Regions from separate parts of the Homo sapiens genome. Here all the other regions are linked to region 1. Evidence: fine-mapped expression QTL. A gene starts in region 1. Each other region holds a variant in brackets. All regions are shown on one strand. Distances are from middle to middle.

What was found. PIP is the estimated chance that this variant, and not a neighbour inherited with it, causes the effect. A credible set is the group of variants that fine-mapping cannot tell apart.
Region 2: its variant is the best candidate, but not a certain one, in a credible set for the expression of TMTC1 in tibial artery (GTEx, PIP 0.78).
Region 3: its variant is the best candidate, but not a certain one, in a credible set for the expression of TMTC1 in whole blood (INTERVAL, PIP 0.63).

What each region holds. Positions count from the first base shown.
Region 1 is chr12:29,781,491-29,785,490 of GRCh38, reverse strand. It overlaps TMTC1 (transmembrane O-mannosyltransferase targeting cadherins 1), which reads left to right and starts at 1,549. Exons shown (of 18, transcript NM_001193451.2): 1 at 1,549-2,041. The coding sequence starts at 1,740.
Region 2 is chr12:29,957,635-29,961,987 of GRCh38, reverse strand. All of the region lies in intron 3 of LOC105369715 (a long non-coding RNA gene), which reads left to right. Among named protein-coding and RNA genes, the nearest start is that of TMTC1, 180 kb to the right of the region's middle. The variant A/G (reference allele first, on the strand shown) is at 1,838.
Region 3 is chr12:29,582,659-29,587,011 of GRCh38, reverse strand. It overlaps TMTC1 (transmembrane O-mannosyltransferase targeting cadherins 1), which reads left to right. Exons shown (of 18, transcript NM_001193451.2): 8 at 3,438-3,605. Among named protein-coding and RNA genes, the nearest start is that of OVCH1, 87 kb to the right of the region's middle. The variant A/T (reference allele first, on the strand shown) is at 2,571.

The DNA of each region.
Region 1 (4,000 bases):
TTTTTATTAAGTTAATAGGTGAATAGGAAAGGCTGTAGTGTGTTATACGGGGAAATAGACTCAGGTGTGTCTAGATATTAAAGTCGGTATATTAAGGTTACCAAGCGTGAAAGATTTTGATGGAAGAATGAAAACATCCATGTCCAGGACTTCCAGTTTCATTTCTCAGTCACTAATTTCAAGTCACCAAATAAACAAAGTGAAAATGGGTGAAACGTACTTTGAGTTACAATAAGTTTATCTTAATTCATTGACTTTTCAACTGCTCAGATGTCTTAAAATTTTTTAAAAAGTAAGTTGTTATAGTAAAGAGCCACACAAATACTCATAGCAGAGGAACAATTTCTGGATTATGTCGGTGAGCTTTTTAAGGGTTTGGGGAGGATGAGAATAAAAGGGTGACTTTTTATTTTCAGTTTTTCTATCTGGATGTGTCAAATTCCTGATAACTTCTAACACTCAGCAATGGAAATTTAGAAGGTGCCTGAAAGAACAAATAGAATTTTCAGACCTGGAGAAATTCTAGTAATCATCACTCTGGGACATATTATTAAAATTAGTATTTTAAAAAAGAAAACAATCTTTCAGAAAGACAGGAAGTTTAGGAGCCAAAGCCAGAGGCCCTAATACAAATCGCCCCCACCTCCCCATCCCCCCATCCCCACCTTCTTCCCCGCCCTGTTCAAACACGCCCACAGCCCAGGAAATAATGAGACCCAAGTGATCCAGCTAGATAGAAAAAGTAGTTTGCTTGGCATCTCCCAAATTATCTTGAGCAAACAATAAAATAAGAAATGTTTCAGAAGACAATTCGGCTCCCAGGCCCAAACCAAAACTCGAACCTGGTACTTTTTGTAAGTGCGGGCCAAGAAAGGGGCTGTAAAGTTAAAGAGCCGGTGGCGCCTCTGAACACACCCGGGCAGGGCGAGCAGGATGTCCTTGTCCAGGGAGACCCCTTCTCCTGGCTTTGAGGAAGGTGCTCCCTATCCCCGCGGGTTCCTCCGCCAAGCGGGACGCCGCGCCGGGCGGGTGAGAGAAAGCCCGGGCAGGAGAGCACAGAGCCGGCGACTGGACGCGAGCGCGGGGCGGGTGGAGAGCGTCTCTCCGGGCGCCGCTGCTGTTGTCCCGGGTGCTGAAAAGCCGGGAACTTCCCGGGAAGCAGCGGCACTTTTCTCCCTGGAAGGTGGGTGTGGGGGTTCCAGACTGCGCACCTGCTAAACCCTCCTGGGTCCCCCGGGAGGGGTCCGCCAGATGTGCCCCTTCCCAGCCCCATTCGGGGGAGAAGGATGGGGGCGGGGGCGTGGGGGTGAGCACAGCCGGACACCGCAAGTGGGAACCTGGGGTGTCCTTCCCCGCAGCTCCCGGGCAGCCGCGCGCCGCGAACCCCGGTCCACCTGCAAGCAAGGCGGGCCGGGGGCAGAGGGCGCCGGGCTGTGCGGGGGAACCGGCCCGCGTCCCGGGATTGGGGGGCGGTGGAAGAGAGAGCGAGCGGGCATGCGCAGTGGGGCGGAGGAGGTGGCGATGGCCGGGGGAGGCGGGGGGACTGCTGTTTATTTGCAGCTGGGCCAACTCCGCGGCGCAGGCGGCGGCGGAGCGCGGGGAGCTCGCGGCGGGTCCAGCTGCCGCAGCACCATGCCCGAGCCCCCCTCCGGGCAGACGCCGCGCGCCGCCGGGGCCCCGGTAGGGGAGGATGCCAGACGCCCGGGAGAGGCCAGGGCAGCAGCGGCGGCGGCGGCGCGATGGTGGTGACCACCTCTGCCCGAGGCGGCGGCGGGGACCGCACACCCTCCCGGCGGCGGGGCTGCGGGCTAGCGCCGGCCGGGGCCGCGGCGCTGCTGGCCGGGGCAAGCTGCCTGTGCTACGGCCGCTCCCTGCAGGGCGAGTTCGTGCACGACGACGTGTGGGCGATCGTGAACAACCCCGACGTGCGGCCCGGCGCCCCGCTCCGCTGGGGCATCTTCACCAACGACTTCTGGGGCAAGGGCATGGCCGAGAACACCAGCCACAAGTCCTACCGGCCGCTCTGCGTCCTCACCTTCAAGTGAGTCCCTCACCTCGCGCTAGCCGCCGCTGCCTCCTCTACCCTCCGCCCGTCCCTCGGACCGGGAGAAGTTGCGGGACTGACTTGGGGGCATTTCATTTTTGCCGCCCTTTCCCTCCACGCCTCCCTCCTCTCCAGGATGTGCATGGCACTTTGCTCCGGGATCCACTGCCCGGCTAATCTGGGCTCTCGGGGCGGTTCGGGAGGCGCCGGCTGGGGAGTTGGGATCGAGTTTCTCAACTGTCTGCCCTCTCAGCGGGCTTCTCTCTCGAGGCAGGGCTGGGAGCGGGCTGGTGAAACCGCCTCCGCACCCCTTCGCCTGCCGGATCGTGACCAAGTGGGACTAGCGCGGACCCAGAGGGTTCCGGAGGGGTGGCGGTGGTGGCGATGCTTCCAAGTAGAGAATTTCTCGGAGGCTGTTGGGCAGCTTTGCAGATGAGAAGTGTATCAGCCCCTTAAGGGTTTCGTTCAGATGAGACGAGGCGGGAGCCTTGAGCTGACAGGGCTGCGTGGGTTCAGGAGAGGGAGCAGAAAACTCTCCCGAGCCCCCCAGCCCCCGCCTTGCACCCTTGGCTGCTCCCAGAGGCTCTCCAATCTGCCAGACTTCTCTGGATCTAGACTTTAGAAGGTGCAGAGAGAGGTAACGCAGAGCCTAGGCTTCTCCAGGGACCCTGGGGCCCCAGCCGAAATAGTTTTTCTTTTACAACCTCGGAGTCATGATTCAGCGTTTCTGGTGTGAATAAGCGTAAAGGGAACCGAGAATATGCCAGGTTTTTGAGGGGTGGAGTATTTTCTTTAATTTGAAAAGAAGCCTAGCTTCTGAGGAAAGAAGAGAAGTGCTCATTTAAGGGAAATGCTATCTTACACAATCAGGAGCTTGACTCAACCCTTTATAATGTGGCTCAGCATTGAAGTTCATTTTAACGCGCCGGTCAAAACTGTTGAAATAATATTGGTGCGCTATTATCGGCGTTTTAAGCCTTTTTGCAACGGGTGTAATAGGAACCCGTGTTTATGGTAATGATTATTTGAGACTGGGTTGGCAGCTTGAAAAGCCTGCTCTGGATGAGAGGCTGAGGCCTCTTGACAGGTGTCTCTGATGACTCAGAAAAGGAAACCATAGCAATCGGCAACAATTCATGGGCTTTTGACTTACGTCTTCCACTGAAAGTTTAATGTTTTTAAGGAGAGTGAGAAAATTACATATTTGACTTTGAAGAGAATGTGTTATAGACATTTGTTCTCTTAGAAAGTTGTTCTCGTTTTCTACTGAAAGATAACCTTGGCTAACCTCGCTATTCAGTTTCCCAGATGTTTCTTAAAATCTCCTTGGGACAAATATAAATGTTTCACTTCTAGATTGACCTGCTTTTTCATTATTACAGTCAGGGTTGTTGGTTAATTTAGGATGTGCAAGTTCACAGCATGAGATGTGCTTGCTATCTTTGTAACAGCCATGGAGACCATCCTGGTCACAGGTCTGAGTATTTTTCAATTAAAAAGGGCAGAGTCAAATGCCTGTGCCTACTTGCTGGAGAGTAGGGAAGGGTGTTTTCACTTCTTGACTTTCTAGAAGGTTTTCTTCTTTTTTCTCTGTCTTTTCTCTTTTTTTCTTTTTTGGGATGGGATCTCACTCTGTCCTCCAGCCTGGAGTGCAGTGGCATGATTATTGCTCACTGTAGCCTGAAACTTCTGGGCATAAGCAATTCTCCTGCCTCAGCCTCCCAAGTAGCTGGAACTACTACTGGCACATGCCGTGCATCCAGATATATTTTAAAATTTTTTTTGTAGATATGGGGTCTTCCTATGTTGTCTAGGCTGGTGTTGAACTCCTGGGCTAAGCGATCTTTAAGCCTCAGCCTCCCAGTGTGCTGGACTTGTGGGCATGAGCTACTGTACCTCACCTAAAATGTTTTATTTTTCTTCATAATGGAGACAGCAGGCACATAAGGGAGGGGT
Region 2 (4,353 bases), 180 kb before region 1:
TATAAAATGATGTGATTATTACTTATTGCAGGTCTGTATCGAAGTATTTCGTGTACCCCATAAAAATATATACCTACTATGTACCTGTAATTTTTTTTTAATTTCAGAAAAAGATTATGCAATTTCTTAATAATATGAATGACTGTTCACTGTGACAATACAGATCACCTCTGGGATAGTATCAGATTGCATTAAAACTTCCTAATGCATTTATTTTGACTATGTAATAAATAATTAAAGAAAACCAGAAGCCAAATATGGTTTTAGACTCCATCTGTAAGGAGTATCATATTAACTATTTGAACTGGATTAGCAGATGTCAGAAAGAAAATGTAGTAAACTAAAATACTGTCTTAATTGGCCAGGTAAATGTTATAGGTAACAAAGTCTAATGGTCGTTTTTCCGTATTAATAACATCTGAAATCTCTAGGCCATATGTATTGAAAAAAATAAATACAATAAAAATGGTTGAATGGCTATACAAGTACATAACACTTCAGTACGTACTCTGTCCAGTCAGCCACAGGCCCACTTTGGTCTGAAGTCAGAGAAAAGAATGCCCTGAATCGTTGATGATTCATGGTGTAGAGTAGGTCCTGAGGATATGTTATTCTTGAGTCCCTCTCCTTCACTCCTTTTGGAATAGCTCTTGATTTCTTTATCATCAGCTCAGTGTGGTCACTGCTCTGCATTCAGGCAGCAGGACACCTGTCCTTGTTCCTTGCTTCTGCATATGTGTGGCCAGTTCTGTGCCAGGAGTGTGTGAGGTGAGCTGAGAAAAAACAAGTCCCAAGCCAGGGCCACTTGAAAGTGTGTGCAAATATATGTGCTACGTTCTTTCAGGGCTGAGGAAAAGCATAAAAGCAATGCTCTGACATTGGGACCTGGATGAGAAGGCAGTTAGGAATATCCCAATTTAGCCAGGTTGCATTTACCCCACAGCTAAATGGATGCTTTGATGATGCAGTTTAGTGCATGTCCCTAGGTTTAGACTTAGGGTGGTGGCTGTCTAAATCCTGGATCTGCCCTCATAGCTGAATGACGGGTTAAATGCTTCACCTCTAGGAACCTCAGTGGCTGAAGTGAAATGTGCTTTTTAATCTCTGCCCTATGTGGTATCGAGGACAACACACTAATGACTCTCAGGACTTTTGTTAAGAGTGTTCAGTTGGCACTGGGTGGAACCAGGGATCCTGGTTCAACAAGACAAGCGGTTAAAAGTATAAATTGCTCCGGCATAAAGCAATGTGATTTCCCTCTAGAAAGCTGCATTTCCTTATCAGTTAAACAGCATGAATAGGTAAGGAATTATAATCCTCTATGACCTTTCCCTTATATCAGCAGTTATTACATTTTAGAGCCTTAAGTATCACTTGGAGTGCCTGTTACAATGCATATCCCTAGGCCCCTCAATGATATAACGGGTCTGGGGAAGGGATCTGGGGATCAGCATTCGTAAGCCTCACACATGATGCTGATGTAAGTGGGGTTGAGACTACATTCTGAGAAACACTACTAAGTAGGATTCTCCTGATCATTTTATGCTTGATAACAGACAGTGTATCAAGATGCTAAGAGCTAACGAAGGAAAAAAAAAAAAAAAACTTCTCTGTGGAAATGTGAGCCAAGGGCACAGTGGCTGGCTGACTTTCCATAATAACTCTGGTTGCCTTGGTGATGAGAGGAGGTGGTGGGGGGGAACCATGGCACTGGGAAATGTTGCAATGGCAAGATAAATTTTTCTTTCGTATAAAAATTCTGTTCTGATTGTCCACCTTTGGTTAGGTGAGAAATAATCATGCTCTTGGTCCCATGAATCCAAATGTCTATCATGAC[A/G]TAAATAAAATATTTCCCAATGTTTTGCTAGCAACCCTCTACATCCCACTCTCTGTGTTTCCCCCAGAGACTTCCAAAAGGTCACATCTCTGAAAGCTGGGTACTGGGACCAGGAACAGCTCCATCATAGATTTTATAGAAGGAGCAATTACTAGAAATTAGATTATGATCACACGGTGCAAATTTTTCCAGTAAATATTTCAGAGGGTTTCAGAGGGAATTTTGCCTTTGGTTATCAGCAGTGAATCTTCTTTCTCATGTGTTGAATGACTAAAAGCATTTGCACCATCTCAGTTCCCTGGCTCTGTCTTAAGAACAAGAAATTTAGCAAAAGCAGCTTCTTCACATTTTCTTTTGGTTATGATGACTTGTTAGTTTATCAATTTAGATAAAGTGTTTAGCTTTCTATTTAAGGCTGTTAACACATTTATTTAAAGTGACAGCACATAGCTTGTTTTGTAAAAATATTGACATTTGGGGAGAATTTAGGAAATGCCAGTAGCAGAAATAAAAGGATTTGGTCATGGGCTTGGCAGCAGCAACCCTGGCATGCTGGGAAGCCCTCTAGATTACTACATCTTGGTTGTCTTTCTTTTGTGGTAGAAGGAGGGGCTGGATCACAAAACAAAGTCGCTTTCAATCAAAAAAGATTATTGCTTTCTTTTGTCTGACAGATGAACTTATTGATTAAATTAGATATTAGTACTTTTCTAAAATACCAAATTTTGAGATTTAAATTCTAAACAGTCTGATGAAGGGTATCTTCTTAAAGCATCCGTTTTCTCTAATAACTCTACTATATAGTCTGAATGCGTTCTTCATACAGAAAGAAAAAATGGATAATAGGCTGTGTATCACATCTCTGGCCAATGCAATGGAAATATAGCATCCAGTTTATTGGCTTTTTATAGCTTTTGACCTTTTACAGAAGCCACACAGAACTGTATGGGGACAGATTCATACTATGTGGTGTTGAAGAACAATTCTGTTTTTTCAATCTGAAGATCACACTTACTATAATTACCATTAAGTGATCGATTACCTGCATGCCCTCCCACCCCCAGTGGATTACAGTATCAGATTCGGGTCACTGTAGCAACAATGGGAGGATGTGGGGTGCTCACTCTATGTTGTGTGCGTAGTCAAACTTCAGCCACCTTTAACATCTCTCCCCCCAGTTGGAAACTGAGGAATGGAAAGATGGAAAGTTCTGACCCTGTCTAGTCATAGAGAAGCAGACATGGAGATGCAGCTCACACACAGACCTCACATGTGGCCTGGAACAGAGTAGGTCCTGAGGAAACGTTAGTCCTGAGTGTCTCCCCTTCACTCCTGCTCTATTGGAATGACTCTTCATACCTTTATCATCAGCTGGGTGAGGTCACTGCTCTGCACCCAGGCAGCAGGACACCTTCCACACTGTGCCTTGCTCCTGCATATGAAGGGCCAGTTCTCTGCTGCTGTGAGTGTCTGGAGGTGGGCTGGAGGAAGATTAGTCCCAAGCCAACGTCACTCCAAAATGCACACAAATATATATGTTAAATGCTTTTGGGATTGAGGGAAGCATAAAAACAATGCTCCCAGGTTGGGACCCAAAAGGGAAGGCAGCTAAGAATATACTGATTTAGCCAGGATTCATTTACCTCATAGCTAAAGGGATACTTTGATGATTCAGTTTCATGCATGTCCCTGGGTTTAAGCTCAGGCGGATGGCTAAATCCGGCCTCTGCCCTCACCAGCTGAATGATGGGTTAGATGCTTCACCTCTAGAAGCCTCAGTGGCCAAAGTGAAATGTGCTGATGAATCTCTACCTCTCTAGGTTCTTGTAAGGGTGGAATAAAAGAACATGAGCAGTGTGCCTAGCAGAGTGTCTGGCACATAGAAGGAGGCAATAAATGTTAGTTCCACTTGTTCCTTCCCATGCTCACTTAAAATTTCCACCAGAAGCTCTGTGAGCTGATTTTCCACTAGGAAGAGGATATCACAACGAAAACAGACACTGTCAAAAGCACATGTTGCCCCTGAAGAGAAATGAGATGGATCTTTCCATTTTTCTTGTTGCTGTGCTGGTAATAAAAATAACTAACTAATGTGTATTGCAGCCTAACTATGCTTCTGGCACTGTGCCAACCATTTTACATACAGCCTTTTAAAATACATTTCTAGGATAGAGGAATTATTATTGTTATTTCTTATTTTATTTATTATTATTATTACTCTTTGTCTACTTTCTTTGGGCTTGATTTGCTGTATCTTTTTTATTTTCTTGAAACGGAATTTCAAATCACCAATTTAGTCTTTTGTCTTTTCTAACATGCATTTAATACTAAAATTTCACTCTAAGCACTTCTTTAGCTACACTTTAACAATTTTAGTATGTTGCATCTTCATTTTCACTTCCTTTAAAGTATTTTCTAATTTCCAACATGATTCTTACTTGAACTAATGATGAAATGTAGACATGTGCTTTTAACTTCCAATCAGTTGGAGATTTTCTAATTATTATTCTGTTAAT
Region 3 (4,353 bases), 200 kb after region 1:
ACCATTCCTTCTGAAACTATTCCAATCAATAGAAAAAGAGGGAATCCTCCCTAACTCATTTTATGAGGCCAGCATCATCCTGATACCAAAGCCTGGCAGAGACACAACAAAAAAAGAGAATTTTAGACCACTATCCTTGATGAACATTGATGCAAAAATCCTCAATAAAATACTGGCAAACCGAATCCAGCAGCACATCAAAAAGCTTATCCACCATGATCAAGTGGGCTTCATTCCTGGGATGCAAGGCTGGTTTAACATTCGAAAATCAATAAACGTAATCCAGCATGTAAACAGAACCAAAGACAAAAACCACATGATTATCTCAATAGATGCAGAAAAGGCCTTTGACAAAATTCAACAACCCTTCATGCTAAAAACTCTCAATAAATTAGGTATTGATGGGATGTATCTCAAAATAATAAGAGCTATCTATGACAAACCCACGCCAATATCATACTGAATGGACAAAAACTGGAAGCATTCCCTTTGAAAACTGGCACAAGACAGGGATGTCCTCTCTCACCACTCCTATTCAACATAGTGTTGGAAGTTCTGGCCAGGGCAATCAGGCAGGAGAAGGAAATAAAAGATATTCAATTAGGAAAAGAGGAAGTCAAATTGTCCCTGTTTGCAGATGACATGATTGTATATCTAGAAAACCCCATCATCTCAGCCCAAAATCTCCTTAAGCTGATAAGCAACTTCAGCAAAGTCTCAGGATACAAAATCAATGTACAAAAATCACAAGCATTCTTATACACCAATAACAGACAGAGAGCCAAATCATGAGTGAACTCCCATTCACAATTGCTTCAAAGAGAATAAAATACCTAGGAATCCAACTTACAAGGGATGTGAAGGACCTCATCAAGGAGAACTACAAACCACTGCTCAATGAAATAAAAGAGGATACAAAGAAATGGAAGAACATTCCATGCTCATGGGTAGGAAGAATCAATATCGTGAAAATGGCCATACTGCCCAAGGTAATTTATAGATTCAATGCCATCCCCATCAAGCTACCAATGACTTTCTTCACAGAATTGGAAAAAACTCCTTTAAAGTTCATATGGAACCAAAAAAGAGCCCACATTTCCAAGTCAGTCCTAAGCCAAAAGAACAAAGCTGGAGGCATCACGCTACCTGACTTCAAACTATACTACAAGCCTACAGTAACCAAAACAGCATTGTACTGGTACCAAAACAGAGATATAGACCAATGGAACAGAATGGAGCCTTCAGAAATAATGCTGCATATCTACAACTATCTGATCTTTGACAAACCTGACAAAAAGCAATGGGGAAAGGATTCCCTATTTAATAAATGGTGCTGGGAAAACTGGCTAGCCATATGTAGAAAGCTGAAACTGGATCCCTTCCTTACATCTTATACAAAAAATTAATTCAAGATGGATTAAAGACTTACATGTTAGACCTAAAACTATAAAAACCCTAGAAGAAAACCTAGGCAATACCATTCAGGACATAGGCACGGGCAAGGACTTCATGTCTAAAACACCAAAAGCCATGGCAACAAAAGCCAAAATTGACAAATGGGTTCTAATTAAACTAAAGAGCTTCTGCACAGCAAAAGAAACTACCATCAGAGTAAACAGGCAACCTACAGAATGGGAGAAAATTTTTGCAACCTACTCATCTGACAAAGGGCTAATATCCAGAATCTGCAATGAACTCAAACAAATTTACAAGAAAAAAACAAACAACCCCATCAAAAAGTGGGCAAAGGATATGAACAGGTACTTCTCAAAAGAAGACATTTATGCAGCCAAAAAACACATGAAAAAATGCTCATCATCACTGGCCATCAGAGAAATGCAAATCAAAACCACAATGAGATACCATCTCACACCAGTTAGAATGGCGATCATTAAAAAGTCAGGAAACAACAGGTGCTGGAGAGGATGTGGAGAAATAGGAACACTTTTACACTGTTGGTGGGACTGTAAACTAGTTCAACCATTGTGGAAGTCAGCGTGGCGATTCCTCAGGGATCTAGAATTAGAAATACCATTTGACCCAGCCATCCCATTACTGGGTATATACCCAAAGGATTATAAATCATGCTGCTATAAAGACACATGCACACGTATGTTTATTGTGGCACTATTCACAATAGCAAAGACTTGGAACCAACCCAAATGTCCAACAATGATAGACTGGATTAAGAAAATGTGGCACATATACACCATGGAATACTATGCAGCCATAAAAAATGATGAGTTCATGTCCTTTGTAGGGACATGGATGAAGCTGGAAACCATCATTCTCAGCAAACTATCAGAAGGACAAAAAACCAAACACCGCATGTTCTCACTCATAGCTGGGAACTGAACAATGACAACATGGACACAGGAAGGGGAACATCACACACCGGGACTGTTGTGGGGTCGGGGAAGCGGGGCGGGCTAGCATTAGGAGATATACCTAATGCTAAATGACGAGTTAATGGGTGCAGCACACCAACGTGACACATGTATACATATGTAACAAACCTGCACATTGTGCACATGTACCCTAAAACTTAAAGTATAATAATAATAAAATTT[A/T]AAAAAAAGAATAAAAGAAGAAGTAAGAAAAAATAAAATAAAATAAAAATAGATTTCAACTAAAATACATACAGCATTAATGGGTACAAACTACAAGTTTATATTCTTCTGTGTCCAAGTGGCAGGCAGAAAGTATCTCTGTTGGTGCATAGATGATGTGAGGGACCATGTAGCACCAAGCCAAAGGCTTTTAGAGACGTAATGCTGATATACAAAGTGCTACTCAGATAACATGTTAACCCTGCACCTACCGGTACAGCTAGGCATATCAATGCATCTTGTCTGTGATGAGCTCCAAGTTGTGAGGCTCAGGAGTCGGCCTGTGGGTAGATTTTCCAAAGTGTAAGGGCTTCAGCTGGCCCTGGAAACAGAGAACAGTCCTCCTTGGTGACCAGCATCCTTCCAGGACCTGACACAGAGCTTTCAGACACTCTCCCTACAAAGCTGTGGTGTGACCTGCTGCAGCATAAACTCCGAATTTAGGCGCATAGTGCCAATAGAGTCATACAATGACAGTGACATGAGGGAGCTTGGGTCAGAGGAGCCATTCAGGACCCAAGAGCTTATATGTGGGACTTCTCATGATGCCTCAGCTGCTGAAATCCAGGGCACTTTAAGCCTACAAGATGACTCTCTCATTCCCTACACTGAAGAAATAGCAAGAAATATTTCTACAAGAAATAGCAAACCTGCTAGTGCAGCACTTTAGAGAACTAACATGTTAATATTGTCCAAGGCAGGGGAGTTTCTATTTGTTTCTCTAGCACAGGACAAGCTTCATTTGAAAGTTAGTTTTGTAGGAGATAATTCTGGGGGGAAGCTATTGCACCCCCAAAGTAATCCCGTTCCTTCCACCCTGTTTTCCAGCATGGGCTACTGCATCCTTTTTGTGCATGGACTGAGCAAGCTCTGCACTTGGCTGAATCGATGTGGGGCCACCACCCTGATTGTGTCCACTGTGTTGCTGCTGTTGCTTTTCTCTTGGAAAACTGTGAAACAGAATGAAATTTGGCTGTCAAGAGAGTCCCTATTCAGGTATGACTAGACAGATAAAAATAAATATCTTCCTGTTTATTTCTTTGCTTACAAATTGTTTCCAAACAAATGAGGTAACATGGGCCTGGCAGTATTTACTAAGGAAAATTATCTTTAATAAAGTTTTAAATGGAAGATGTAATTTTATGTGGGGTTTTAACTTTAGATTTTTAAAATGATATATAAAACTTAACATGAGCTCTTTCTAAGTGAATTTATGAAAATAAGGCTCCTGGGAAAGTTTTTGAGTCTGTGAATTCAGATGGAAACAGTTTTAATGATGAGCAGGGCTGTAAAATCAGCTATAAACAAAATGAAACCAAGAAGTGCATGTGAAAAGTGAGCACACAGCCAGAGGGAAGAGAAATGCAGTATCCTTCTTTAGAATATTCCAGCATGATACGCTGTGATCTGTGACCTAGTTGCTTTATTTTGAACATTAATTTTGAACATTCTTTGAGACTGCCATTCATGATGCTGTGTTTCTGGGGCTTAGTCAGCCTCACTAAATGCCGCAGCCCTGGCGACCTTCGCCTGGCTCTCTTGGCACTGCCACACCTGACACCCAAACAATATTTGCCCAGTCTTCCAGGAATCCCCAGTCTGGGCCTCTTCCAAGCTTCTGTCCTCACTTATGACCTGATTGGTCAATTTAGTCACCATGATTTTTTTCTTGGTTTCCTGATTAGCTGGTACCCAACACTTATTCTTTGGGGGCAAACAATTGAAGCAGAGCTAATATCACTTA